Regions from separate parts of the Homo sapiens genome. Here region 1 is linked to region 2. The links come from fine-mapping of genetic effects on gene expression. A gene starts in region 2. The other region holds a variant in brackets. All regions are shown on one strand. Distances are from middle to middle.

Region 1 (11,634 bases), 72 kb before region 2:
ACAGGGGTCACAATAAATGTATCCAGTGAACAGGTTCTTGCAAAAGAGAAGCACAATCCAGGCAAACACACACACACACAGACACACACACACACACAACACACCACCTCACAAAACCACAGCAAGTATGTAGTAAGTTTAGGAATATTTGGGACTTCCTCCTGGGTAGGAATGAATCTGGGGATGCAACCCCACATCTAAGTCTTGTCCCTCTGCTGTCGTTTGCCCCAGACTGAGTTGTATCAGCTGAGACTTAGATCTTTGCTCCACAGGAACTGTGACATCCACTCCAGGTTTTGTATCAGGTCATCTGCTGTTCTGAGCACCCTTACAGCCCCCTAGCTAGTCCAGCTCTGCCTGTCCCTTTCATTCCATCCATACCTGGCTTTCAGTCATAACATGTATTATGCAGGTTTTTTTCTGGGCTTTTTTTCTGATATGCAGTGGCCTCATTACTCAGAGTTTGCATTTTGTAAGAAATCCACCTCTTGTTCAAATGACTTGCTTGTTTGAGAAGTTTAGTGGCTGAAGACTCGTTTTGTCTCACTCATCCCTCTGGGGCCTTGCGGTCTTTCTCTTTCCAGTCCCCTGGCCAATCAGCCAAGCCGTTCACCACTCCCTGAGTCTGTATATTTTCTTTCCAGCGGATGATCAGATGCACTGCCCAGAGCTTTGCCCATTGGGAGTGTTTCCTTTCACTGCTGTCTTTCAAGGCTACCCCTGAAATAACACTATTAGTGCAGCCAGCACACATTTTCAGCTTGTATCCACGTGGCCCGCTGAGCCATCATCATGAGTGAACCAGGGAAGGAGAGTGAGCCAATATGAGGATATTACTGAGTTAGCCACCACTGTGTGATTGGTTGCTCGATTCCACAGGACTGTCCTCTGAGAAGCTGTGTAAAATGTGCCTCAGGGTGGTCTGGTCCAGGAGAGGAGGAGGAAGAATGCACGCACTGGTTCCTGTGTCCCATTGGTCAGTGTTACCTCACAGGGAGTGAATTCCCCTGCAGCACTTGCAAGTTGCACTGTGTGGCCGCTGAGCAGGTCCCATGGCAGTGTCCACAGGAAAGCGCCAAGGTGACAGTTGAAGGCCCAAATCACAGCTATCAGGTTATGCTGGCATGACATGGTCGTAGGCCTTGCAGGGCTAGCACTGCAGTGGTGGCTGGATCAAGGGATAGGTGAGGCCAAGAGGATGTAACATGTTGCATAATGGTAAGTGAATAAAGTCCTGAAAGATTACATACAGTGTGGTATCTTTTCCATTTAATTATAAACTACCAAGATTACAAGAAATGCAAGCCCGTGATCAATGGGGGATTTGGGAGGTTACCTTGGGAGGAAAAAGATGGGAGGGTGATGAACTGAAGAAGCATATTGTTACAGTTGAATGCAGGTTGTCACGACTAGCTTCAGTGCTGACTATAAACAAAAAATAGGGAAGGAGGGAGGAAGGAGGCCATGCATGGACCATGATTAGAGTGTAAGAGTGTTATGAACTCAGGATGATGATTAATCTGTGTACCTGAGGTTCAAATAAAACGTGCAGGCCGGGCGCGGTGGCTCACGCCTGTAATCCTAGCACTTTGAGAGGCCGAGGTGGGCGGATCATGAGGTCAGGAGTTTGAGACCAGCCTGGCCAACATGGTGAAACCCCGTCTCTACTAAAATACAAAAATTAGCCGGGCGTGGCGGTGGGCGCCTGTAATCCCAGCTACTGGGTAGGCTGAGGCAAGAGAATTGCTTGAACCTGGGAGTTGGAGGTTGCAGTGAGCCGAGATCGTGCCGCCACTGGACTCCAGCCTGGGTGACAGAGTTAGACTCTGTCTCAAAAAGAAAAAGAAACCCACAAAACAACAACAACAAAACCCCCCAAAAAACAGCAACAAAAAAACCGTGCAAGTGGATGCTTCTAATGTGAACAGTTCTTAGCTTTCCCAGAGGCGTGGCTCTCCCCAAGGAACGCGGCGGCGATGCTTCCCGATGGCCGCCAGGGGGCGTGCGCGGCCAGGAGCGGGCGCGTTGCGCGCGGGCTCCTGCAGCCACCTGCTTGGTGGGTTTTGTTTTCGCTACAGGAGAGCTGTGTCCAGCTGGGAGGTGTGGCAGCAGGCACAGCTGTTGGCCGGGGACCCCGGGGGCTCCCCAGGGAGGGCCTCCGCCCAGCGCGCTGCCCCTGGGTTCGCTAGGAAGCATCTGCCAGACCGGCGGGGCCCCGACTTTCCGGAGAACTGCCAAGACCCTGGGGCAAGCGCTTGAGGGCCCTCCTGGGCAGGATCGCAAACTGGGGCTGGCTGCTTCAGCTAGCCCCCAGCAGGTGTGTTTGGCCTGAAGTGTATCTTTGAAAAGATACTTGGCAGCATTTAAAAATCGGGAAATGTTTAGCGTGGAAATCCAGATGACCATTTCTCTGGGTCACTTGGGGCATCTGGCAGCACTTGGCCAGCGGCTCGCTCCACACGCATCCCTGCCCGGCTGATGAGGTTTGTCACAGTTTCGGTTAAATCAGTATTCCGCGTGACCATTATTCTGGCTGTTATCACTATTCACAACTGAGCCAAGCGGCACACTTCATGCTGTGGTAACATTTCCTTTTTTGCATAACTCTACGTGGAGTATTTTTTATTTTATTTTTATTTTATTTTTTTGAGAAGGAGTTTCGCTCTTTTTGCCCAGGCTGGAGTGCAATGGTGCAATCTCGCCTCATCACAACCTCTCCGCCTCCTGGGTTCAAGTGATTCTCCTGCCTCAGCCTCCCGAGTAGCTGGGATTACAGGCATGCACTACCACGCCCAGCTAATTTTGTATTTTTAGTAGAGACAGGGTTTCACCATGTTGGTCAGGCTGGTCTTGAGGTCTTGAACTCCCGACCTCAGGTGATCTGCCCGCTTCAGCCTCCCAAAGTGCTGAGATTACAGGCGTGAGCCACCGCACCCGGCCTATGTTGTTTTTTATGTACACAGAATATGGCAATAAAACCCAAACAGTCCACCAGTTGTCTCCCCAGCCCTCCTCCAACCTGGGCCCTTTCCATCCACCTGGTGCCCAGTGGTTCCTGGCATCTCCCTTTATGTCAGTGGTTTCTGTCAGGCCTCTAAGCCCAAGCTAAGCCATCATATCCCCTGTGACCTGCACGTACACATCCAGATGGCCAGTTCCTGCCTTAACTGATGACATTCCACCACAAAAGAAGTGAAAATGGCCTGTTCCTGCCTTAACTGATGATATTATCTTGAGAAATTCCTTCTCCTGGCTCATCCTGGCTCAAAAGCTCCCCTACTGAGCACCTTGTGACCCCCACTCCTGCCCGCCAGAGAACCCCCCTTTGACTGTAATTTTCCTTTACCTACCCAAATCTTATAAAACGGCCCCACCCCATCTTCCTTCGCTGACTCCCTTTTCGGACTCAGCCCGCCTGCACCCAGGTGATTAAAAGCTTTATTGCTCACACAAAGCCTGTTTGGTGGTCTCTTCACACGGACGCACATGAAATTTGGTGCTGTGACTCGGATCGGGGGACCTCCCTTGGGAGATCAATCCCCTGTCCTCCTGCTCTTTGCTCCGTGAAAAAGATCCACCTATGACCTCAGGTCCTCAGACCCACCAGCCCAAGGAACATCTCACCAATTTTAAATCAGGTAAGCAGCCTCTTTTTACTCTCTTCTCCAACCTCCCTCACTATTCCTCAACCTTTCTCCTCTCAATCTTGATGCCACACTTCAATCTCTGCCTTCTCTTAATTTCAATTCTTTTCATTTTCTGGTAGAGACAAAGGAGACACGTTTTATCTATGGACCTAAAACTCTGGCGCCGGTCATGGACTGGGAAGGCAGCCTTCCCTTGGTGTTTAATCATTGCAGGGACGCCTGATTATTCACCCACGTTTCAGAGGTGTCAGACCACGCAGGGACGCCTGCCTTGGTCCTTCACCCTTTGAGGCAAGTCCCACTTTCCTGGAGGAGGGACAAGAACCCCAACCTCTTATCTCTGTGCCCCATCCCTTTTTTCCGTGCCCTGACCCCTTTTCCACTTTTCTGGAGGGTAAGAATCCCCCACCCCTTCTCCGTGTCTCTACTCTCCTTTCTCTGGGCTTGCCTCCTTCACTATGGGCAAGCTTCCACCTTCCATTCCTCCTTCTTCTCCCTTAGCCCGTGTTCTTAAGAACTTAAAACCTCTTCAACTCACTCCTGACCTAAAACCTAAATGCCTTATTTTCTTCTGCAATGCCGCTTGACCCCAATACAAACTCGACAGTAGTTCCAAATAGCCGGAAAACGGCACTTTCAATTTTTCCATCCTACAAGATCTAAATAATTCTTGTCGTAAAATAGGCAAATGGTCTGAGGTGCCTGATGTCCAGGCATTCTTTTACACATCGGTCCCTCCCTAGTCTCTGTTCCCAATGTGACTCGTCCCAAATCTTCCTTCTTTCCCTCCCACCTGTCCCCAGTCCCAACCCCAAGCGTCGCTGAGTCTGTCTAATCTTCCTTTTCTACAGACCCATCTGACCTCTCCCCTCACCAGGCCAAGCGAGGTCTCAATTCTTCCTCAGCCTCCGCTCCTCCACCCTATAATCCTTTTATCCCCTCCCCTCCTCACACCCAGTCCAGCTTATAGTTTCGTTCCGTGACTAGCCCTCCCCAACCTGCCCAGCAATTTACTCTTAGAAAAGTGGCTGGAGCTAAAGGCATAGTCAAGGTTAATGCTCCTTTTTCTTTATCCCAAATCAGAGAGCGTTTAGGCTCTTCTTCATCAAATATAAAAACCCAGCCCAGTTCATGGCTCGTTCGGCAGCAACCCTGAGATGCTTTATAGCCCTAGATCCTAAAAGGTCAAAAGGCCGTCTTATTCTCAATATACATTGTATTACCCAATCTGCTCCCAACATTAAATAAAGCTCCAAAAATTAAATTCCGGCCCTCAAACCCCACAACAGGACTTACTTAACCTTGCCTTCAAGGTGTACAATAATAGAGTAGAGGCAGCCAAGTAGCAACATATTTCCGAGTTGCAATTCCTTGCCTCCACTGTGAGACAAACTCCAGCCACATCTCCAGCACACAAGAACTTCCAAACGCCTGAACCGCAGTGGCTAGGTGTACATCCAGAACTGCCTCCCCCAGGAGCTTGCTACAAGTGCCAGAAATCTGGCCACCAGGCCAAGGAATGCCCGCAGCCCAGGATTCCTCCTAAGCCGTGTCCCATCTGTGCAGGACCCCACTGGAAATCGGACTGTTCAACTCACCTGGCAGCCACTCCCAGAGCCCCTGGAACTCTGGCTGAAGGCTCTCTGACTCCTTCCCAGATCTTCTCGGCTTAGCAGCTGAAGACTGACACCGCCTGATTGCCTCAGAAGCTTACAGGACCATCACAGACGCTCTAAGTAACTCTCACAGTGGAGAGTAAGTCCGTCCCCTTCTTAATACGGAGGCTACCCACTCCACATTACCTTCTTTTCAAGGGCCTGTTTCTCTTGCCTCCATAACTGTTGTAGGTATTGACAGTCAAGCTTCTAAACCTCTTAAAACTCCTCAAATCTGGTGCCAACTTAGACAATACTCTTTTAAGCACTCCTTTTTAGTTATCCCCACCTGCCCAGTTCCCTTATTAGGCCGAGACACTTTAACTAAACTATCTGCTTCCCTGACTATTCCTGGACTAAGGCTACATCTCATTGCTGCCCTTCTTCCCAATCCAAAGCCTCCTTTGCGTCCTCCTCTTGTATCCCCCCACCTTAACCCACAAGTATAATATACCTCTACTCCCTCCTTGGTGACCGATCATGGACCCCTTACCATCTCATTAAAACCTAATCACCCTTACCCCGCTCAATGCCAATATCCCATCCCACAGCATGCTTTAAAAAGATTAAAGCCTGTTATCACTCGCCTGCTACAGCATGGCCTTTTAAAGCCTATAAACTCTACTTACAATTCCCCCATTTCACCTGTCCTCGAACCAGACAAGCCTTACAGGTTAGTTCAGGATCTGAGCCTTATCAACCAAATTGTTTTGCCTACCCATCCTGTGGTGCCAAACCCATATACTCTCCTATCCTCAATATCTCCCTCTACTACCCATTATTCTGTTCTGGATCTCAAACACGCTTTCTTTACTATTCCTTTGCACCCTTCATCCCAGCCTCTCTTCGCTTTCACTTGGACTGACCCTGACACTCATTAGGCTCAGCAAATTACCTGGGCTGTACTGCCGCAAGGCTTCACAGACAGGTCCCATTACTTCAGTCAAGCCCAAATTTCATCCCCATCTGTTACCTATCTGGGCATAATTCTCATAAAAACACACGTGCTCTCCCTGCTGATCGTATCTGACTAATCTCCCAAACCTCAATCCCTTACAAAACAACAACTCCTTTCCTTCCTAGGCATGCTTAGTGCGGTCAGAATTCTTACACAAGGACCAGGACCGCACCCTGTAGCCTTTTTATCCAAACAACTTGACCTTACTGTTTTAGCCTAGCCCTCAAGTCTGCGTATGGCGGCTACCACTGCCCTAATACTTTTAGAGGCCCTTAAAATCACAAACTATGCTCAACTCACTCTCTACAGTTCTCATAACTTCCAAAATCTATTTTCTTCCTCACACCTGACACATATACTGTCTGCTTCCCGGCTCCTTCAGCTGTACTCACTCTTTGTTGAGTCTCCCACATTATTCCGGATACCACACCTGACCCTCATGACTGCCTCTCTCTGATCCACCTGACGTTCACCCCATTTCCCCACATTTCTTTCTTTCATGTTCCTCACCCTGAACACACTTAGCTTATTGATGGCAGTTCCACCAAGCCTAATCTCCACTCACCAGCAAAGGCAGGCTATGCTATAGTATCTTCCACATCTATCATTGAGGCTACCGCTCTTTCCCCCTCCACTACCTCTCAGCAAGCCGAACTCATTGCCTTAAGTCAAGCCCTCACTCCTGCAAAAGGACTAAATGTCAATATTTATACTGACTCTAAATATGCCTTCCATATCCTGCACCTCCATGCAAGAGGTTTCCTCACTACACAAATGTCCTCTATCATTAATGCCTCTTTAATAA[A/T]AATGCTTCTCAAAGCTGCTTTACTTCCAAAGGAAGCTAGAGTCATTCACTGCAAAGGCCATCAAAGGGCATCAGATCCCATCGCTCAGGACAATGCTTATGCTGATAAGATAGCTAAAAAAGCAGCTAGCATTCCAACTTATATCCCTCACTTTCACTTTTTCTCCTTCCCCTCAGTCACTCCCACCTACTCCCCTGCTGAAACTTCCACCTATCAATCTCTTCCCACACAAGGCAAATAGTTCTTAGACCAAGGAAAATATCTCCTTCCAGCCTCACAGGCCCATTCTATTCTGTCGTCATTTCATAACCTCTTCCATGTAGGTTACAAGCCGCTAGCCCGTCTCTTAGAACCTCTCATTTCCTTTCCATCCTGGAAATCTATCCTCAAGGAGATCACTTCTCAGTGTTCCATCTGCTATTCTACTACCCCTCAGGGATTGTTCAGGCCCCCTCCCTTCCCTACACATCAAGCTCAAGGATTTGTCCCTGCCCAGGACTGGCAAGTTGACTTTACTCACATGCCCCGAGTCAGAAAACGAAAGTATCTCTTAGTCTAGGTAGACACTTTCACTGGATATGTAGAGGCCTTTCCTACAAGGTCTGAGAAGGCCACTGCGGTCATTTCTTCCTTTCTGTCAGACATAATTCCTTGGTTTAGCCTTCCCACCTCTATACAGTCCGATAGCAGACCGGCCTTTATTAGTCAAATCAGCCAAGCATTTTTTCAGGCTCTTAGTATTCAGTGAAACCTTTATCTCCCTTACAGTCCTCAGTCTTCAGGAAAGGTAAACGGACTAAAGGTCTTTTAAAAACACACCTCACCAAGCTCAGCCACCAACTTAAAAAAGACTAGACCATACTTTTACCACTTTCCCTTCTCAGAATTCAGGCTTGTCCTCGGAATGCTACAAAGTACAGCCCATTTAAGCTCCTGTTTAGACGCTCCTTTTTATTAGGCCCCAGTCTCATTCCAGACACCAGACCAACTTAGACTGTGCCCCAAAAAACTTGTCATCCCTACTATGTTCTGTCTAGTCATACTCCTATTCACCGTTCTCAACTACTCATACATGCCCTGCTCTTGTTTACACTGGCAGTTTACACTGTTTCTCCAAGCCATCACAGCTGATATCTCCTGGTGCTATCCCCAAACTGCCACTCTTAACTCTTAAAGTAAATAAATAATCTTTGCTGGCAGGACTATGCTGAATCTCTTTAGGCACTCTCTAATTAAATGTCCTAGGTCCTCCCAATTCTTAGACCTTTAATACCTGTTTTTCTCCTTCTCTTATTCTGTTTAGTTTTCCAATTCATACAAAACTGTATCCAGGCCATCACCAATAATTCTAAATGACAAATGTTTCTTCTAACAGTCCCACAATATCGCCCCTTACCACAAAATCTTCCTTCAGCTTAATCTCTCCCACTCTAGGTCCCCACACCACCCCTAATCCCGCTCGAAGCAGCCCATTATCTCTCCATACCATCCCCCAAAATTTTCGCCATCCCAACACTTTACCACTATTTCGTTTTATTTTTCTTATTAATATAAGAAGACAGGAATGTCAGGCCTCTGAGCCCAAGCTAAGCCATCATATCCCAGATGGCCAGTTCCTGCCTTAACTGATGACATTCCACCACAAAAGTGAAAATGGCCTGTTCCTGCCTTAACTGATGACATTCCACCGCAAAAGTGAAAACGGCCTGTTCCTGCCTTAACTGATGACATTATCTTGAGAAATTCCTTCTCCTGGCTCATCCTGGCTCAAAAGCTCCCCTACTGAGCACCTTGTGACCCCCACTCCTGCCCATCAGAGAACAACCCCCCTTTGACTGTAATTTTCCTTTAACTACCCAAATCTTATAAAACGGCCCCACCCCTATCTCCCTTTGCTGACTCTTTTCGGACTCAGCCCGCCTGCACTCAGGTGATTAAAAGCTTTATTGCTCACACAAAGCCTGTTTGGTGGTCTCTTCACACGGACACTCATGAAAGTTTCCACACTTTTTTTTCAGGAGAGAAATCCCCCTTTTCAATCTAAATTATGCATGAAACTCCATTATGTCAAATGGGAAATATGGTATGAATATCAATGACTAATTTACATTGATAACATTTACTTATTATAAAGTCAGTGCATAGGAACAATGGGATTAATTTGGAAAGCCCACAATTTGGATAAGTAAGGAGATAACTGCAGCTGCAGCTTCACGGTCAGATTTGTTCTGCTGCTGCATCTGGGTTGCGCAGGATGGAGGAGCCCAGGCTTGCCCAGTGAGGTGGTGGCGGGGTTTTTAGCAGCTTGCTTCACACTCTGGGTGGCCTTGCACTGACGGCGGCTGCACGAGCTGAGTTACCCTGGGCAGACGGCATGGAGGCCGAGGGGCTCCCAGTGTCCGTGTTTGCTATTGAAGGCTGGAGAGTGTTTTAAGTGTTTGCATATATTTTACTCATAAAATCGGGTATCTGTGAGTCTGAAGCACCTCTGAGAGTTCACAGGATGCAGTTCAGAAACTGCCACAAAGGAGGGAAGTGGTGGTTGCTGAGGAGGGGCCCCAAAGACCTGCTGTGTTTCCATGGCAACAGAAGTTTGCTTTTCATGCTAGTGTAGAGGCTTGCAGGTGGGTGGCCCAGAGAATGGGCCAGCTCTGGGTCTGTCTTCCCCTACCTGGGGCCTCTTCAGTGGCCTGGCTGGAAGCCAGGCTGAGCTCAGCACAGGGCAGTGGCACAGGGGGTGCCTCAGGCCGGGGTTAAGGGGGCCTCCTTCAGGAACACACTTGTTCTCCCTCTGGGTCCGTCTGCAGACATCCAGCTCTGGCCCTGCCCTGTCATCCCAGCAGCCCGCAGTGGGGTGGTCCTAGGCCACGCCCAGAAGACAGCCAGGCCTGGGCGTCTTCACCGGGCTCCATCACTAATCTCCCTTCCACTTGGCTTTCTCCTCCGGTCTCCCCGCTACACTGTCCTCAAAGATTGGGGGTTCTATTGCCACGGGCCTCCCTATTACAGAAAACCCCACAGATGCTGTAGTCTTCCAGAGCCTGGCTGAGCAACAGTTTTCTGCCACTCTTGTGGGTAATGAGAAAACCTGGCAGAGGTGTGCCCAAGGGATGGCACCCCCCCTCAGCCTTCCTCCCTACCTCCCCAAGAGCAAGGCCAGGGAACGGGCTGGTTGTGGTGGGGGATGTGAGCAGATGGCCGTCGGCCTCATCTCCCAGTGCCCCTTGCGGCCACCGGTGCCAACACCCTTTCCTGGGGCCTCAGGTTGCCAGGATGGCTCCCCTGGCTCCCTGCTCCTCCCCCATGGGTGCATCCTTCCCTCCTCTCACATCTTTGCTTGGATCCACCTGGCTGTAACTGCTCTGGGAGCAGGGGTGGTGGGTACACAGTTTGGGTTCCACAAGGCCCCTGGGTTGAACAGCTCCCAGAGAGCCTGGATTAGAGAAGACAAACATACCCTACAGCTGTGTTCTCCAGGACCCATAATGCTTAGCTGTTAGAACATGGGGTGGCCACTGTTGGGCTGTGGGTTGCCATTTTGGGTTGGTGTAATTTTTGCTCTTTCAGCTACTGAGGTGCCTAGACATAGGTCCTGAATTGACTTTTTCTTTTCTTTTTTTTCTTTTTTTTTTTTTTTAGACAGAATCTTGCTCTGTTGTCCAGGCTGGAGTGTGGTGCTGTGATCTTGGCTTACTGCAACCTCCACCTCCCAGGATCAAGGAATTCTCGTGCCTCAGCCTCCTGAGTAGCTGGGACTACAGGCGTGCGCCACCATGCCCAGTTAATTTTTGTGTTTTTAGTACAGATGGGGTTTCACCATGTTGGCCAGGCTGGTCTTGAACTCCCGACCTCAGGTGATCTGCCTGCCTCAGCCCCGCAAAGTGCTGAGATTATAGGCATGAACTGCTGAACCTGGCCCTGAATTGCTTTTTAAAAAATTATGGTGGCCAGGCGCGGTGGCTCACGCCTGTAATCCCAGCACTTTGGGAAGCCGAGGCGCGTGGATCACGAGGTCAGGAGATCGAGACCATCCTGGCTAACATGGTGAAACCCCGTCTCTACTAAAAATACAAAAAAAATTAGTTGGGCGTGGTGGCAGGTGCCTGTAGTCCCAGCTACTCAGGAGGCTGAGGCAGGAGAATGGCTTGAACCTGGGAGGCAAAGCTTGCAGTGAGCCTAGATCGCGCCACTGCACTCCAGCCTGGGTGACAGAGCAAGACTCCGTCTCAAGAAAAAAAAAAATTATGGTAAAATAAATAAAATTGACCATCTTAACTATTTTTAGATGTACAGTTCAGTAGCATTAAGTGCATTCATTCATACTGTTGCAGAACCACCATGGCCATCCATCTCCAGAATTTTTCATCTTCCCAAACTGAAACTGTACCCATTAAATAATAACTCCCATTCCCCCTTCCCCTGGCCCTGGCAACCGCCCTTCTAGATTTTGTCTCCGTGATTTTGACCACCCTAGGTACCTCCTGTAAGTGGAATCACGCAGTATCTGTCTGTCCATGTCTGGCTTATTTCACTTGGCATAATGTCCTCGGGTTTCATCTGTATCATAC
Region 2 (15,709 bases):
TAGAATCATCCTAGTTTTGTTTAAAGAAAAACACCACCAGCCGGGCAAGGTGGCTCCCGCCTGTAATCCTAGCACTTTGCGAGGCCAAGGCAGGTGGATCACCTGAGGTCAGGGGTTTGAGACCAGCCTGGCCAACATGGAGAAACCCCGTCTCTACTAAAAATACAAAAATTAGCCGGGTGTGGTGGCACATGGCTGTAATCCCAGCTACTTGGGAGGCTAAGGCAGGAAAATCGCTTGGTCCTGGGAGGCAGAGGTTGCAGTGAGCTGAAACCGCACCACTGCACTCCAACCTGGGCAACTGAGACTCTGTCTCAATTAAAAAAGAAAAACAAACCACCACCAAAATTATGTGTATCTACTATAAAATACTTTAGTTTTACTTTTTAATCTTGGGGAAGAGGGAGTGGGTGAGTCTATTTTCTTCTTGTGCTCCCCAAAGTTTCCACAATGAACAAGTATTACTTTTGTTAGGAATAAAGCCAATAACTTATTTTATTATATTTTATTTTTGCATTTGTTTGGTCACTGACAGTAGTTTCTTGTCAGGAATGGGCTGAGGTCAAAGAATCTTGGCAGTGAGGTTCTTTGCTGCTTTTTACTCTCCAACTTCCAGGAAGTAGGACATGGGTGTGCAGACTGCACTTGGGAACCAAACTAGACCCCCTCCTCGCCCTCCGCCATACACATCTAAAGCAGAACATAAAGGGATGGGCCCTTCTGGATGATGCTGGGCTATTCTGTGCTAACAGGTCTATTCACAGCTAGACCAGAGGCTGACATCCCCCACAGCTGAATTCCACTTGGCACCTAACCTGTGAATTCTCAAAGTGAAGCCTGGAATTGCCCAGGCCTCTTAGAGGGTCTCCAGGACCCGCTCTCCTGCCAAGAAACCTTAGTGTACTCCCCCCAGCACCCAGTCTGGGAAGGCTCCTTCAATCTTATTTCAGACAAAACATCCTTTTAGGATATAAAGTATTTTGCACTGTCAAAATTGCACTGTCAAAATTCCAGTTTGCATTACTATTCTGAAATGAATAAGATGTATATGTAATATAACCCTAATCCCTGTGACAACCAAAAAAAAAAAAAAACAAAAGGTTCCATAAAATTCCAAAATAACCCCTAGGGGGCGGTACAGCCCCTAGTTAAGAGTCACCTCATGAATGGTGAGTTGATATGATGCTTTGCTGATTTTTCTTAGACTAAGGACTATATATTCACCAAGATTTGGCAGACCCTGGAGTCTGGTCCCTGCATACCTCCAGTCTCATCCCCAATACTCCCACCCTGTTCTCTCCCCTCCAGCCCTAGAGATACTCCTCCCTCCACTAACAGCCAGGGTCCGTGCTCTTTCTTTTCTTTTTGGGGGGATGGGAGGACAGGGTCTTGTTCTGTCACCTAGGCTGTATGGAGTGCCGTGGCGATCACCACTCACTGCAGCCTAGACCTCCAAGAGATCCTCCCATCTCAACCTCCCGAGTAGCTGGGACTACAGGCACGTGCTACCACACCCATCTAATTTTTGTATTTTTTTGTAGAGACCGGGTTTCACCATGTTGCCCAGGATGGTCTCAAACTCCTGGGCTCAAGCCATCCGCCCGCCTCGGCCTCCCAAACTGCTGAGATTACAGGCATGAGCCACTGCGCCGGCCAACGCTCTTTCTTCTGCTTGTGATGCAATTTCCTCATGCTCACATCAGATGTCCCTTCCTCAGAAACACCCTTCCTAATCCCCAAAAGGTCACACTCCCTAGTATATGCTCTATACCACTGAGTACTTCTCCTTCATAATTTCGAACCTGTTTGTAATTACATATTCATAACCATTTTGATTAATGTTTATTTTCTCTATTTGAGTATAAAGAGGCAGGGGCTCATCTGTCTTCTTTCCACAGTTCCCTAGCACACAGTCGTGATCACCTACTAGTTAGCTGATCACAGTAGGTGATCAACAAATATTTGCCAAATAAATAAATGAACCTCCCAGAAGATATTTAGATTTCCATCATTGCCGCTTGTGAAATACATTCTGATTCTCTGTCCATGTTATGGTTATGTAAACGTCACAGTCTGTTTTTCTGCACAGGCAGAAAGAGTCTATCCTGTTAATAGCTGTATTTCACATAGCGTAAGATTAACAGCATAGCAGATGCTCAGTGGATAAGATGGCACCCATTTCTAAATGTCTGGGGTGGGAAGATTAAGATAATTACCCCAATTCTGGCTCATTTCTTGCTACATCTTTTTCCTTCCCAACCCTAACATACCACTTATCTCTAACTTAAACATATATTGAATAAAGGCACCAAAGGGGTAAATGAGCCACTCCCAACCTGAAAACTTACACTCATCTGTCAAGATGCAATTTAAATATCACCTTTGCCCTCTGATCCTCTTCCATAAGGTGGGCAACTATCAGAACGTTTACCTTCCTGAGCAGCCAATTTTGGTACTTGTTCATCCCCTCAGCTTGTCAGAGGCATCCTAACCAGAGTGACTCCATCTTGAATAAAGGCCGAGAGAAAGCCAAATCTGCTGGATTACATTCCCAGGGGGTTGGGCAGTCTTGGTCACATGATGTTTATGGTTGAGGGAATGAGTTAATAATTTTTTTTTTTTTTTGAGACAGAGTCTCACTTTGTTGCCAGGCTGGAGTGCAATGCTGCGATCTCGGCTCACCGCAACCTCTGCCTCCCGGGTTCAAGAGATTCCCCTGCCTCAGCCTCCCGAGTAGCTGGGACTACAGGCGTGTGCCACCACGCCTGGCTAATATTTTGTATTTTTAGTAGAGATGGGGTTTCACCATGTTAGCCAGGATGGTCTCGATCTCCTGACCTCGTGATCCGCCCACCTCAGCCTCCCAAAGTGCTGGGATTACAGGCGTGAGCCACCACACCCGGCCCGAGTTAATAATATTAACTAACTAAATAAAGACCCAGAACTTACGGAAATGTCCCAGTTCTTCAAGAAGAAAAAGTATTCTTAGTTTAAGAATAGGTTCTGCTTTTAAAATAATGGTACACTCATAAGTTCTTGCTAAAATCAATAATCACATAGGAAAGTAACAATATTAATAGCTTGTCACAAGCTGATCGCAAGCTTTTGTAATAAAGTACACTATTTTTAATAACCTATATAAGCAAGCATTGTATTTGCAATGGGTGCGTTCCTCCTCTTGCTTTCTGAAGAGTCTCTACTCTGTAATTGAGTGGCGTCTAGTAAACTACTTTGACTTCACTATACTCTACAACTTGCCCTGAAGTTTTTTCTGCACGAGATCCAAGAACTGTCTCTTGGGGTCTGGGACAAGACCCCTCTTCCCATGACAAGCTGAACCACAGATTACTTGAGGGCAAGAACTTTGTCACAGTCATCTGATTCTGCACAAATGGAGATGAATGTGGCAGTTATAAATGTCTGCTGAATGAACAAATAGATAGGACGTGTTGGTAGGGCCACAAGCCCCATCCTGGGGTCTCCTTAATCCCACAGCAAGGATATCTAGACCCCTTCAGACCCCAGGGCATCCCTTTCAGCTCAGACCCTTCAGGCACTCAGGGGATGCCTTTCAGCCCAGCTTTTGTGACTCCTGCAGGGGACACTCCTTCTTCTAGGAGTGGATGTGGTGGGAACACCACAGGGATTTCCTGAAGTGTAGCTGTAGCCTCCCCACACCCAGTGGCTGCATGCAGAGCACCTTGCCCCCTCACACTCATCCACAGGTCTACTTACATAATTACATACCAACCAGTTACTTATTTAAAGTATAAATCTCGGTGGTTTTTAATATATTCACAGAGTTGTGCAACATCACCATCACCAATTTTGTTGTTGTTGTTGTTGTTTTTGTGACGGAGTCTCGCTGTGTCACCCAGGTTAGAGTACAGTCACGCAATCTCAGCTCACTGCAACCTCTGCCTCCTGGATTCAAGCAATTCTCCTGCCTCAGCTTCCCCAGTAGCTGGGATTACAGGCACCTGCCACCACATCCAGCTAATTTTTGTATTTTTTAGTAGAGACAGGGCTTCACCATATTGGCCAGGCTGGTCTCGAACTCCTGACCTCAGGTGATCCACCCACCTCAGCCTCCCAAAGTGCTGGGATTACAGGCATGACCCACCGCACCTGGCACCATCACCAATTTTTTGAACATTTTCATCACCCCCTAAAGAAACCCCATACCCCTTACAGCAGTCACGTCCCATTTCCTTTCAACCCCTGCTCCCTGACCTAGGCAACCACTAATCTATTTTTGTGTCTACGCATTTGCCTATTCTGGACATTTCATATAAATGGAATCATATAATGTGGTCTTTTGTGGTTGGCTTTTTTTCACAGCTTAGTGTTTTCATGGTTATCTATATGGTTACACGCATCAGTACTTCATTCTCCCTTTTTATGACTGAATAATATTCAATTGTATGAATGTAGCACTTAGTTTTAGTTGCTGTTTATACATTCATCATTTGATGGGCAACTGTGTTGTTTTCATTTTCTGGTTATTATGAATAATGCTGTTATGAACACATATGAATGTGTAAGTCTTCATGTGGACATCTGTTTTCATTTTCTTGGGTAGAGCTGGGAGTAGAATTGCTGGGTCACATGGTAACTTTTGAGAAACTGCACAGTTTCCCAAAGTGGCTGTACCATTTTGCATTCTCATCAGCACTGTATCAGAGTTCCAATTTCTTCACATCCTCCACATCTTCATCACTTGTTGTTTTCTATTGTTGTCATCTCCGTGGGTGTGAAGTGTTATCTCACTGTGGCTTTTATATCCCTAGAACTATTAACAAGCAACAACTCTGCCAGAGTTATGAGTTTTGGAGATCAGGCCATTAGGCCTGGATCGGTTCCACCACTACTGCTAAGAGCTGTGTGACTTTAGTGTCTCTTTAACTCTTTAGCCCGTTTCCTTATCTATCAAACATGTTACTTCACTGGATTCTTAGAAACATTTAATGAGATTATACACACATGGTATATAGTATGTAATTACTAGAACAATAATAGGGCTAAAAAAAAATAGCTATTAAAAAAAAGAGTCTCATGCAGGCGCAGTGGCTCACCTGTAATCCCAGCACTTGGGGAGGCCGAGGTGGACAGATCCCTTGAATCTCTAAGTTCAAGACCAGTCTGGGCAACATAGCAAAACCCCGTCTGTATCAAAAAATACAAAATTTAGCTGGGCATCGTGGTGGGTGCCTATAGTCCCAGCTACTCGGGAGGCTGAGGTGGGACAATCGCCGAGCCCAGGAGGTTAAGGCTGCAGTAAGCCATGATAACACCACTGTCCTCCAGCCTGGGTGACAGAGCAAGACCCTCTCTGTCTCGCTCAAAAAAAAAAAAGTCATTTAGCCGAGCGCGGCAGCTCACACCTGTAATACCAGCGCTTTGGGAGGCAGAGGCGGGGGCGGATCATGAGGTCAAGAGATCAAGACCATCCTGGCCAACATGGTGAAACCCCATCTCTACTAAAAATACAAAAATTAGCTGGGTGTGGTGGCACGTGCCTGTAGTCCCAGCTACTCGTGAGGCTGAGACAGGAGATTTGATTGAACTCGGGAGGCAGAGGTTGCAGTGAGCTGAGATCGTTCCACTGCACTCCAGCCTGGTGACAGAGCAAGACTCCCTCTCAAGAAAGAAAGAAAAAAAAGAGTGCTTTAAAGTCAAAAGTCAAAACCTGTGACTGTGTCTCTACTCCAAAAAGGAAGACCAAAGAAACTGAATTATCATGGCCAGAGGATTATAAAAATTACACATGTATAAATGACATGTCAAGTACACACATTCACTCAGAAACTCATTTTCTAGTAATGGTGGACCCAGAAGAGGCCAAGACAAGGGAAGTCATTCTCCAGTGGAACAGCCTTTGCAATGATTTCTTAAGACAACGTGTTGGCAGATCTATTGATCAGATCATGATGAAAACATTTCATGAGAAGCTGAGGACAAAAGGGTCAACCTGTTCAGTATGAAACTGAGAAACTGATGGTCAAAATGAGAGACCCATAGAAAGAAAGCCCCAATGGGTGGCATTAATTTAGCTGCTTCTGCCCTTCCCCAATGTTAAAACTTGGCTAAACAAGCATTTTCCAGCAAAGAAGACAAATGAACCTCAAATGCCCAAGCAGAGTCTTAGAAAAGAGGAGAAGTGGGAAAATAGGGAGGAGTTAGATAAGAGGCCCAAGTAGATAGCCCTAACTAGGACTAATACAGCCATCCTGCAAGGGCAACTTTGCTCCCAGAGGGTCTGATCAAACAAGCCTGCAGCAGTGATGGGGAATCCTCCAGGGCAGGTGTAAGACTCCTCAGCATGGTTTTAAGAGGAGCACATAGAGAATAAGCAACCAGATAAAGAAATTATTCAAGTCTTTGTTCTCTTTTTTGGAACAACAGGCCCCACTCTTGCCACTTGCAAATTGGCCCAAGGACCACAGGCCAGAGGCTAGCTGAGGAGCTTAAGATGAGATGGAGATTTCTCATCTCCCAGTATCTTTATTCATCAAAATCATGGACCACATGAAGGCTTCTCATCTCCATTACCTTTTCTTTGTACCTTTTTTTTTTTTTTTTTTTGAGACAGGCCTCCCTCCGTCACGCAGACTAGTGCAGTGGCACAGTTCACTGACCTTCTCAGTTCAATCAATCCTCTCACCTCAGCCTCCCAAGTAACTGGGACTAGAGGCCCATGCCAACCACACAAGGTTTTAAAATTTTTTTTGTAGAGATGGGGTCTCGCTATGTTGCCGAGGTTTCATCTCCATTATGTTTGTGTACCAAACTCATAGACCAACAAGAAGACTTTTCATCCCACAATATCTTTGTCCAGCAAACTCAGGGGCCAAGATGGAGGCTTCTGATCCCATTCTCTGTCTACCAAACTCATCCCTTCCAATGCTCAGGTAGGATATGTCTCACCCCAGCCCATCTTTTAAGGATGGTGAGATGGGCTGGTCTCTTCTATTTGGCTGATCAAATCTCTTAGCCTGGGCCAAAAAATGCCCTGCTCAAACCCAACAATGCTCAGCACCAGATTTTTTTGTACGTTGCTGAAATGGCTCTTCCTAGTTTTTGGTCTATCTAGACACCGTTCTTAGGGAGGCAGGAACTCAGCGCCCCTTCTCTTTAGGTCTGGCCCAAGCAAGACATGAGGGCCACCTCATGCACACTCAGTGTCTGGAATGGCAGTGCTATAGATGCACAGACGTCCTGTGCCCAACCCCCTGGGGCCAGGCCACCTTAGCAGGCCCCAGCTTCTGGGTGTGTGACCTTGTCCAGCCCCACACTCCTTTCCCCACACCTCTTTTTGAAACTTACCGCTCCCCTCCCCACCGTTCTTGGTGCAAACATTACAATGGTGGAGACTCACAAACAGCCCAACCCAGTTTCAAAACACATCATACAAACGGAAAAGTTGTTTCAGATTACAAACTTTTAAAGAAGAAAAAAACGGGAGGGGAGAAAAGAAAAGAGTGGGGAACAAGAGAATCGGCCAGGCAACGTCTGCCCTGGTAGGAGGCCCTTGTGCTGAGTTGGTCACAATCCAAGCCCAGACACTCATCCTGCCTGGCTCCACGGGTGACTCCCATTCAACAGTCTGGCTCCCCTACATGAGTACCAGCCCCTGACAACAGGCCTTTCCCAACTGACCCCCTGCCCTCCAGAGCCCCCTGAGACCCGGGCCCTCCCTCGGAACTTGAGGGCGCAGGGGACCAGGACGGCCGTCTCAACGGTCCCAGTTCTTTTTCCCCACTATGGAACACAAGACCCTCTGACCTCCTCCTTCGAGCGAAACTGCACACAGAGCAGGGAAGCCCTGCCGCGCTGGGTTCGGAGGAAAGAGGAGGCCGTGGACGGGGAAGAGGTCGGGTTTCGCTCCCTCAGCGCCGCCGCCTGGGCGACTCTTCCACCCCCGGCTCGGGTTCGAAGCGGCGCGGCCCAGAGAAGAGGAAGAAAGACGAAAAGGAACTTTGCCCGTGGTTTCAGTCAGTAGGCGGGTCAGGCTTCGCAGGGGGGTGGCCGGAGAAACTTGCGACCCTGGCGACCTGGGTCCGCGGGAGCAAGGGCCGGGGCGGCTCTGGGGACTGAGCTCCAGCGCGGGGGCTGCGGCAGCAACTTTCCCGGAGGAAGCCTGCCGCGAACTTTAGCGACGCGGTGCCCCGCCCGCTGCGCGATGCTCCCTGGGCTCCGGCCGGGTCCAGACGCCCGGCGCGTCCGCTCCCGGACCCCTGCTTTCCCGGGACGCCCTGTAGAACCTCGGCCTCGCGCCCCGCGCTCACTTACCATTTGCGCCACTTTCAGCAGGGCCGCGTGGGTGCGGGGGTAGCTGAGGTCCAGCAGCCCCTCCAAGGGGCTCGCGCTGGGCTGGGCCGCGCCGGCCCCGGGTCCGAGCGCGCTGCCGCTGCTGCACGTGGTGCGGACGAGCCCGGCTCCGTGCGACATTGCGCGGCCCCAGCTCGCTGGCCGCCTCCCCGGGCAGCTGCCCAGGGGCCAGATACAGAGGGCGGGCCGGGGGCGGGCGGGGGCGGGCGCTGGCGAGGGCGGGGCGCCCGGGTCCCTGCCCCGCTGCTGGAGACGCGGAGCCGCCTCTGGCGGGATCCCTCCGGTGACTGGCCGGCCGGCGCCTTCCAGAAAGGTAGCGGCAGTCCCGGCCCTCGTAGATGCGCGGAAGTTAGACTGGAGCGAGAGGAAACCGGATGCCTTGGGTCGTGGCCTCTCCGAGGTGGGCAAGGCCCGGACCACAGCTGGTACTGAGCCTCCTGGGATTTTGTGTGGGTGCGGCTGCGGATGTGTGCTGAGAGCACTTTACTGAAGTTTAACTTACATAAAGTGTGATGCCCAGACCTTACGTGTTCAGCTCCACTAATTTTTATATATGTGTACACCTGTGTAACCGTCGCCCAGATCAACAAATAGAACGTGCCCATCACCCCAGAAAGTTCCGTGGTGGGCCTTCCTGACCTACCTTCCTTCCCTGGCCCCATCCTTATCCAGCCTCAGGCAACCACTACAGTGTATTCTGCTTTCTGTCACTGTAGGTTCATTTTGCCTGTTCTTGGACTTCATAAACTTGAAGTAATACAGAATATTCTCCTTCAACATAACAAATTAGAAGATCCATCCTGTTGGGAATATAAGTAGTTCATATCAGTTCCTTCCTTTTTATTGCTGAGTAGTACTCCACTGTGCAAAGATACCGTATTTTTTAAACGTTTACCCAGTTGATGGACACCAAGCTTGCTTCCTTCCTACCTGCTTGCCTGCCTCCTTCCCTCCTTCCGGCCTTTCCCCCCTCCCTCATCTCTTTTCTGGCTATAGTCACTATTATGGTACACGTTTTTTTGGTGGATACAAACTCTCATTTCTCTGGGACAAATATCTGCAAGTGAACGCACTGGTTACAAGGGGAGCATATGTTTGCTTCTGTTAGAAGCTGTCAGCCTGGGGAACATGGCCAGACCTCATTTCTACAAAAAACAAAAAATAAAAATAAATTAGCTGGGCCGGGCGCGGTGGCTCACGCCTGTAATTCCAGCACTTTGGGAGGCCGAGGCGGGCGGATCACGAGGTCAGGAGATCGAGACCATTCTGGCTAACACGGTGAAACCCCGTCTCTACTAAAAATACAAAAAATTAGCTGGGCGTGGTGGCGGGCGCCTGCAGTCACAGCTACTCGGGATGCTGAGAATGGCGTGAACCCGGGAGGCGGAGCTTGCAGTGAGCAGAGCTTGCGCCACTGCATTCGAGCCTGGGCGACAGAGCGAGACTCTGTCTCAAAATAAAAATAAAAATAAAAATAAATAAATAAATAAATTAGCTGGGTGCAGTGGCACATGCCTGTTCAGGAGGCTGAGTCTGGAGGAGCCTTGGAGCCCAGGAGGTTGAGGCTGCAGTGAGCCATGACAGTGGCATTGCACTCCAGCCTGGGCCACAGAGCAAGACCTTGTCTCAATTAAAAAAAAAAAAAAAGACAAGAAAAAGAAAAAGCTGTCAAACAGCTATCCAAGTGACATTCTATTCTGTATCCCTTTTGGGTTGTTTTAAAAATGAAGAGGCCAGGCGTGGTGGCTCACACCTATAATCCCAGCACTTTGGGAAGTCAAGGCATGAAGATCCCTGGAGGCCAGGAGTCCGAGATTGCAGTGAGCTATGATCTTGCCACCGCACTCTTGTCTGGGTGACAGAGTGAGACACTGTCTCTTAAAAAAAGAAAAAGAAAAAGAAAAGGAAAAAAACATAAAAATGAAGACAGGCCCAAACGGGACTACCAAAACGAGGTATGTTATCATGTTCCTTTTGAGCAGTGTCCCTGTGGCCATACTTACATTTATTCATTTGGAGATAACATCAAAAAATCTGGCTGGGCACGGTGGCTCATGTCTGTAATCCCAAAATCAAGCTCACAAGCCCAAGTTTGACACCAGCAAGGGCAACATGGAGAAACCCCATCTCTACAAAAAAATACAAAAATTAACTGGGCATGGTGGCACATGCCTGTAGTCCCAGCTACTCAGGAGGCTGAGGTGGGAGGATTGCTTGAGCCCGGGAGGTTGAAGCTGCAGTGAGTCATGATTACAACACTGTACTCCAGGCTGGGTGACAGAGCAAGACCCTGCCTCAAGAACAAAACAAAGCAAAGTGAAACATAAAACTATCTTTGTGAGTTTATTCCCTGCCAGTGCTGTCTTGTCATCAGAAGAGTTTTCGATGTGGCAAAGTCCTAATAATTCTTGTTGGTGGATGATACCCATGCAATATCTGTTTTGGCAAGTCTCTTAGGTGATTCTGATGCACACTCAAATTTGAGAACCACTGTCATTGCCAGAGTCCACTGCAGTTGAAACATTTGGGGATTTATTACACTATTTATTTCACCTTTATGTACATTTGACAATTTTCATGACCAAGAAAAATTGCCTTCCACGTGTGTCTTCTCTGTAGACAACAGTCACAGCTGCCTGGTACCTCCATTTGTTTCTCTGTAATTCAGGAATAATTGCATCTAGGGGCTGCTGTGACAATGTGATAGATATGCAGGTGTGCTGTGACATTTCTGGCTCTATACCCACAGGCATGAAGTTAGTACTGTGTATCATTTTTTTATGTAGATGTACATTTCACTTCTGTACTTGTCTAAGGCTTCAGGACCCACAGTGGAGATAACAGGGCATCTTTGTTGAGATGAGGGTTTCAGGGAAGCAGAAAAACCAAGTGCTGGATCATTTCTCCTTTGAGGGGCCTTTGTCCAATTCAGCAGTCTTCTAACAGTGATTTTCAGTGTATAGCCCCCCAACCAGCAGTACCTGCGAACTTGTGAGAAATGCAGATTCTAGGGGCCCACTCTGACCTGCTGAATCAGAAACTCTAGGGGTAGGGCTCAGCAGTGTGTGTCTTAACAAGTCTTCCCAACCCCACCCTCACTCCCCACCCCCCTTCACCATCATTCTGTGATTCTGATGCATACTCAAGTTTGAGAACAACTATCTCTTCCTGAGTCTGCTCAGAAACATTGCTGGGCTTTTCTGCCTGGTGTTGACTAATGCACCACCCACCTCTAATCAGAAGTAATCACTGTGCTGGGCACTCTGTGTTAATCACTTTATTATGATCACTTAAGAGCTTGAGCAAGATGCTTGCCAGTGCAAGGGCCATTGCTGGCCTGACTTACAAGAAGAGGCTTCAGAGGCTTGCCAAGTGCACTGAGATGTCTACACTAGTGTGTTGTCTGCTAGATGTGAATAGCTGCCCCTTGGGAAAGCAAGGTCTTAGGCAAAGGGCTTCATAGCCCACTTTAAAGATGTCACACTCTAAGAGGGAACCAACCAGGTAGGTGACCTCTGAATACCTGGTGAGAAATCAAGATGTCCAAGTTCTCCTTTTCTCTACACCGAGGGATTGCAGGTGGCTTATTGACAGTTTAAAGCTTCAATTCGAGTGGTACTCTGACTATAACTCTTCTTCACCAGTGTGTTTATGATGTTATATCTGATCAGATATAATGAAAAAAGTAATAAAATTAGAGTTGACTCTGTATTAGTCACAGTGCTTTTGATGAGACAAACTAAAATCAAGCAAAAAGAAGAGTTCATTCAAGCTGGGAGCAGTGGTGCATGCCTGTAGTCCCAGCTACTCAGGAGACTGGGGTAGGAAGATTTCTTGAGCCCTGAAGTTCCAGGCCAGCCTGGGCAACATAGCAAGACCCTGTCTTTAAAAACAAAACAAAACAAAAAACAAAATAGGCTTGGCACGGTGGCTCATGCCTATAATCCCAATATTTTGGAAGGCCGAGGCAGGAGGATCATTTGAGGCCAGGATTTTGTGACCAGCCTGGGCAGCATAGTGAGACCCCCATCTCTACAAAAAATGAAAAAATTGGCCAGATGTGTAGTCCAAGCAACTTAAGAAGCTGAGCGGGGGGAAGATCACTTGAGCCCAAGAGTTCAATGTTACAGTGAGCCATAATCGTGCCACTACACTCCAGCCTGGGCAACAGAGTGAGACCTTGTCTCAAAAACAAACAAACAAACTAATAAAAAGCAAAACAAAATAATTCATTGGCTTGAGTAACTGTGATATGCAGAGGTATACACCCACTTCAGGCATGGCTGGATCCAGGTGCTCCTCAGGCACAGTCAGGACCTCCATCTCCTGGCTTCACTCTGCTCTGTGTTGGCTTTTCAGGCAGGCCCTCTCATGAGCTCTGACAGCTCAGGCTTACACAATAATCCTGCCTTCGTTATTTCAGCCTGTCTTTTCCAGTGGCTCTGGTACTGTCTTAGGCTGCCATAACAAAATATCACATACTGGGTGGCTTCTCAACAAGAATTCACTTCTCACAATTCTGGAGACTAGAAGTTCAAAATCCAGTTGCCATCAGGGCTGGTTTCTGGTGAGGCCTCTCTTCATGACTTTAGATGGCCACCTTCTTGCTGTGTCCACACATGGCCTTTTCTCTGTGTACATGGAAAGAGAGAGAGAGATCTCTGGTGTCTCTTCCTAAAGGGACACCAGTCCTATTGGATTCTGGCCCCACTCTTATGACCTCATTTAACCATATTATCTCCCCAAAGAGTCCATCTCCAAATACAGTCACACTTGGGGGTAAGGCTGCCACCTATGTATTTGGGGCAGGGAGGACACACAATTCAGTCCATAATAGGCACTATCTCTCATTAGTCCAAATATGGGTCATGGTTCCATCTTTCAACGAATTACTATGGCCAGAGGAGTGGAACATTTTTGGTGGCCAGGTCAAGTTCTACCTACCCATGAAGCTGGGGGTGGGATAGGTTCAGCCCAGTAGAACCACAGGAGCTGAGTGAGGAAGGGGTGGTTCCCAAAAGGAAAACCAGGGTGCGAGTATCAGAAAGCGGAGTGAATATTAGGCAGTGTTATGCACTGAATGTTTGTGTCCCCCCATCATTTAAAAGTTGAAGACTTAACGCCCAATGTGATGACATTTGGAGATGGGGCCTGTGGGCAATAGTTAGACTTAGGTGAGATCATGAGGGTGGGGCCCTCAGGGGGGGATTGGTGTCCTTATAAAAAAGACACCAGAGAACCTGCTGGCATTCTCTCCACCATGTGAGAATACAACGAGAAGGTAGCTTTCTGCAAGCTAGGAAGAGAGCCCTCAACAGGAACCAAATCGATCAGCACCTTGATCTTGTACTCCCCAGACTCTAGAACTCTGAGAAAATAAATTTCTGGTGTTTAAGCCACCTGGCCATGGCATTTTGTTAGGAAGTCTGAGCTATGCCAGGCAGACAAAGGCATCAGGTGTCCATGAAACTCTTCCAATATCAGCCTTTAAAATCCTTTTCCAGTGAATTTCTTTATTTGTTTGTTTATTTATTTATTTATTTATTTATTTATTTATTTATTTTTGAGATGGAGTCTCACTCTGTCGCCCAAGCTGGAGTGCAGTGGCGCGATCTCGCCTCACTGCAAGCTCCGCCTCCTGGGTTCATGCCATTCTCCTGCCTCAGCCTCCTGAGTAGCTGGGACTACAGGCACCCGACACCATGCCCAGCTAATTTTTTGAATTTTTAGTAGAGACGGGGTTTCACCGTGTTAGCCAGGATGGTCTCAATCTCCTGACCTTGTGATCCGTCCGCCTCGGCCTCCCAAAGTGCTGGGATTACAGGTGTGAGCCACCGCGCCTGGCCTCCAGTGAATTTTTAAAAAGTTTATTAGGTTCCGTAAACCAGTCAAACTCTCAGGTCCTTCTGAGAATCACCAATCAGCTGCCTTATATCCATTGGAAATTTATTGCATCAGGCTGGCTCCTGAGCCAAGGGCAGCCCATCAGTGGGTTGGCCAGTAGTGTTTGGAGTGGCCTTATAAGGGAACTTTGCCTAGTAAGAGTGGGAGCTCCACTGATGATCCTCTGTCCTGCGGAGTTTGAATGTGAGGCATTGAGAGGGGTTTAGCAATTGGGACATAGAGAGAAGGTGGAAGCCAGGAGGCTGGTTGGGCCATGAGAGGAAATAAGGAGAGGCAGAGCAGAAGAGAGTGGCTGAGGCCCAGCAGAGGGAGAGCGGCATGTACTCACCACAGCGGGGCCAGCCAGGATACCTGGTCTTTAGCGCCAGGTGGGACCCTGAAACCTTTGTCTTTGTGCTGCCTGGCTGTGTGGCTGAGAGGCAGGACTCTGGAACCAAACTGCCTGGGTTTGGCCCTTAGTTCCATCACTTGCTAGATGTGCAACCTTGGGCAAGCCTCTCTCAGCCTCCATTTCCTTCTCTGTAAAGAGGAACAACAATAGAAATGACCCCTCAGGGTAACTGCGAGATCTAAATGGGATAAGACATATGGAAACGGTCTAGAGTAGCATCTGGCTCATAGTAGTAAATGTTACCTATTTTATCATTTTTCCTAAGTCCTTATGTATCGAACAATGAGGCTTCATTATCTGAGGGCTGAGGGACTCCTGTACGTTGCCATTTCCATAACCATAAGCATCAAAGACCATCTTCAAGGGTGAAATAAAAGATTTCTTGGATTTAGGTAATCCAAGGAATTTTGAGAGCTGCTGGGGAAAAGTTTTACTGAGAGAGGAAGGGAGGAGAGGAGGATTCACCTTGTTATTTGCTCACAACCCTCACTCAGCAAATGTTACGGAGAGCCTTCCACATGCCTGACTGAACACTTCCCAGAAGAGGAACTCCCTCCCCCAGGGAGTTTGTAACCATAGCAACACAGGGAAATAGAGTCAGATAACCGAGGAGGCTGTGGTCGTCATCTCTGTCATCTCTGTTGGGAGGAGTCGAGGTCTGGGTTAGACGGCTCCCTGTTTGTGTCCAGTATTTAGCAGAGTGCCTGGCCCAAAGTAGTACTCAGTTTATATTTGTGGGATTAATGCAGAGCTGTAGCATCCCTGTAAGGGATGGCCCAAAGCTGGGAGTAACCAGCTTGTCTTGAACTGGGAGGAGAAAGTTTCAAAAAAGAATATGTGCTTGGAACTAGGTCTTGAAGGGCGATTAAAAATTTATGGGGTGGGCAAAAGAGGGAATGACATATGTCAAGAAAGGAGGCATGAAACCGCACCACGGATTCCAGGAATTCCCAGTCCTTTGGCGTGGCTGGAGTGTGGGGACTTGGGGAAAAGGGCTGGGGACCTTGGCTGGAGAGATACCACAGGACTGTGGATGCCCACCTTAGGATTTGTGCTTTATGTAGACAATGAACACTGTGAGGA

The links.
Region 1: its variant is fine-mapped to the expression of CMTM7 in whole blood (INTERVAL, PIP above 0.99).

The regions. Positions count from the first base shown.
Region 1 is chr3:32,458,366-32,469,999 of GRCh38, reverse strand. No RefSeq gene overlaps it. Among named protein-coding and RNA genes, the nearest start is that of CMTM6, 39 kb to the left of the region's middle. RefSeq lists silencers at 1,544-1,653, 2,244-2,313, 8,589-8,883 and enhancers at 9,275-9,985, 11,582-11,634. The variant A/T (reference allele first, on the strand shown) is at 7,066.
Region 2 is chr3:32,384,649-32,400,357 of GRCh38, reverse strand. CMTM7 (CKLF like MARVEL transmembrane domain containing 7) reads right to left here and starts at 8,505. Exons shown (of 5, transcript NM_138410.4): 1 at 8,293-8,505. The coding sequence starts at 8,451.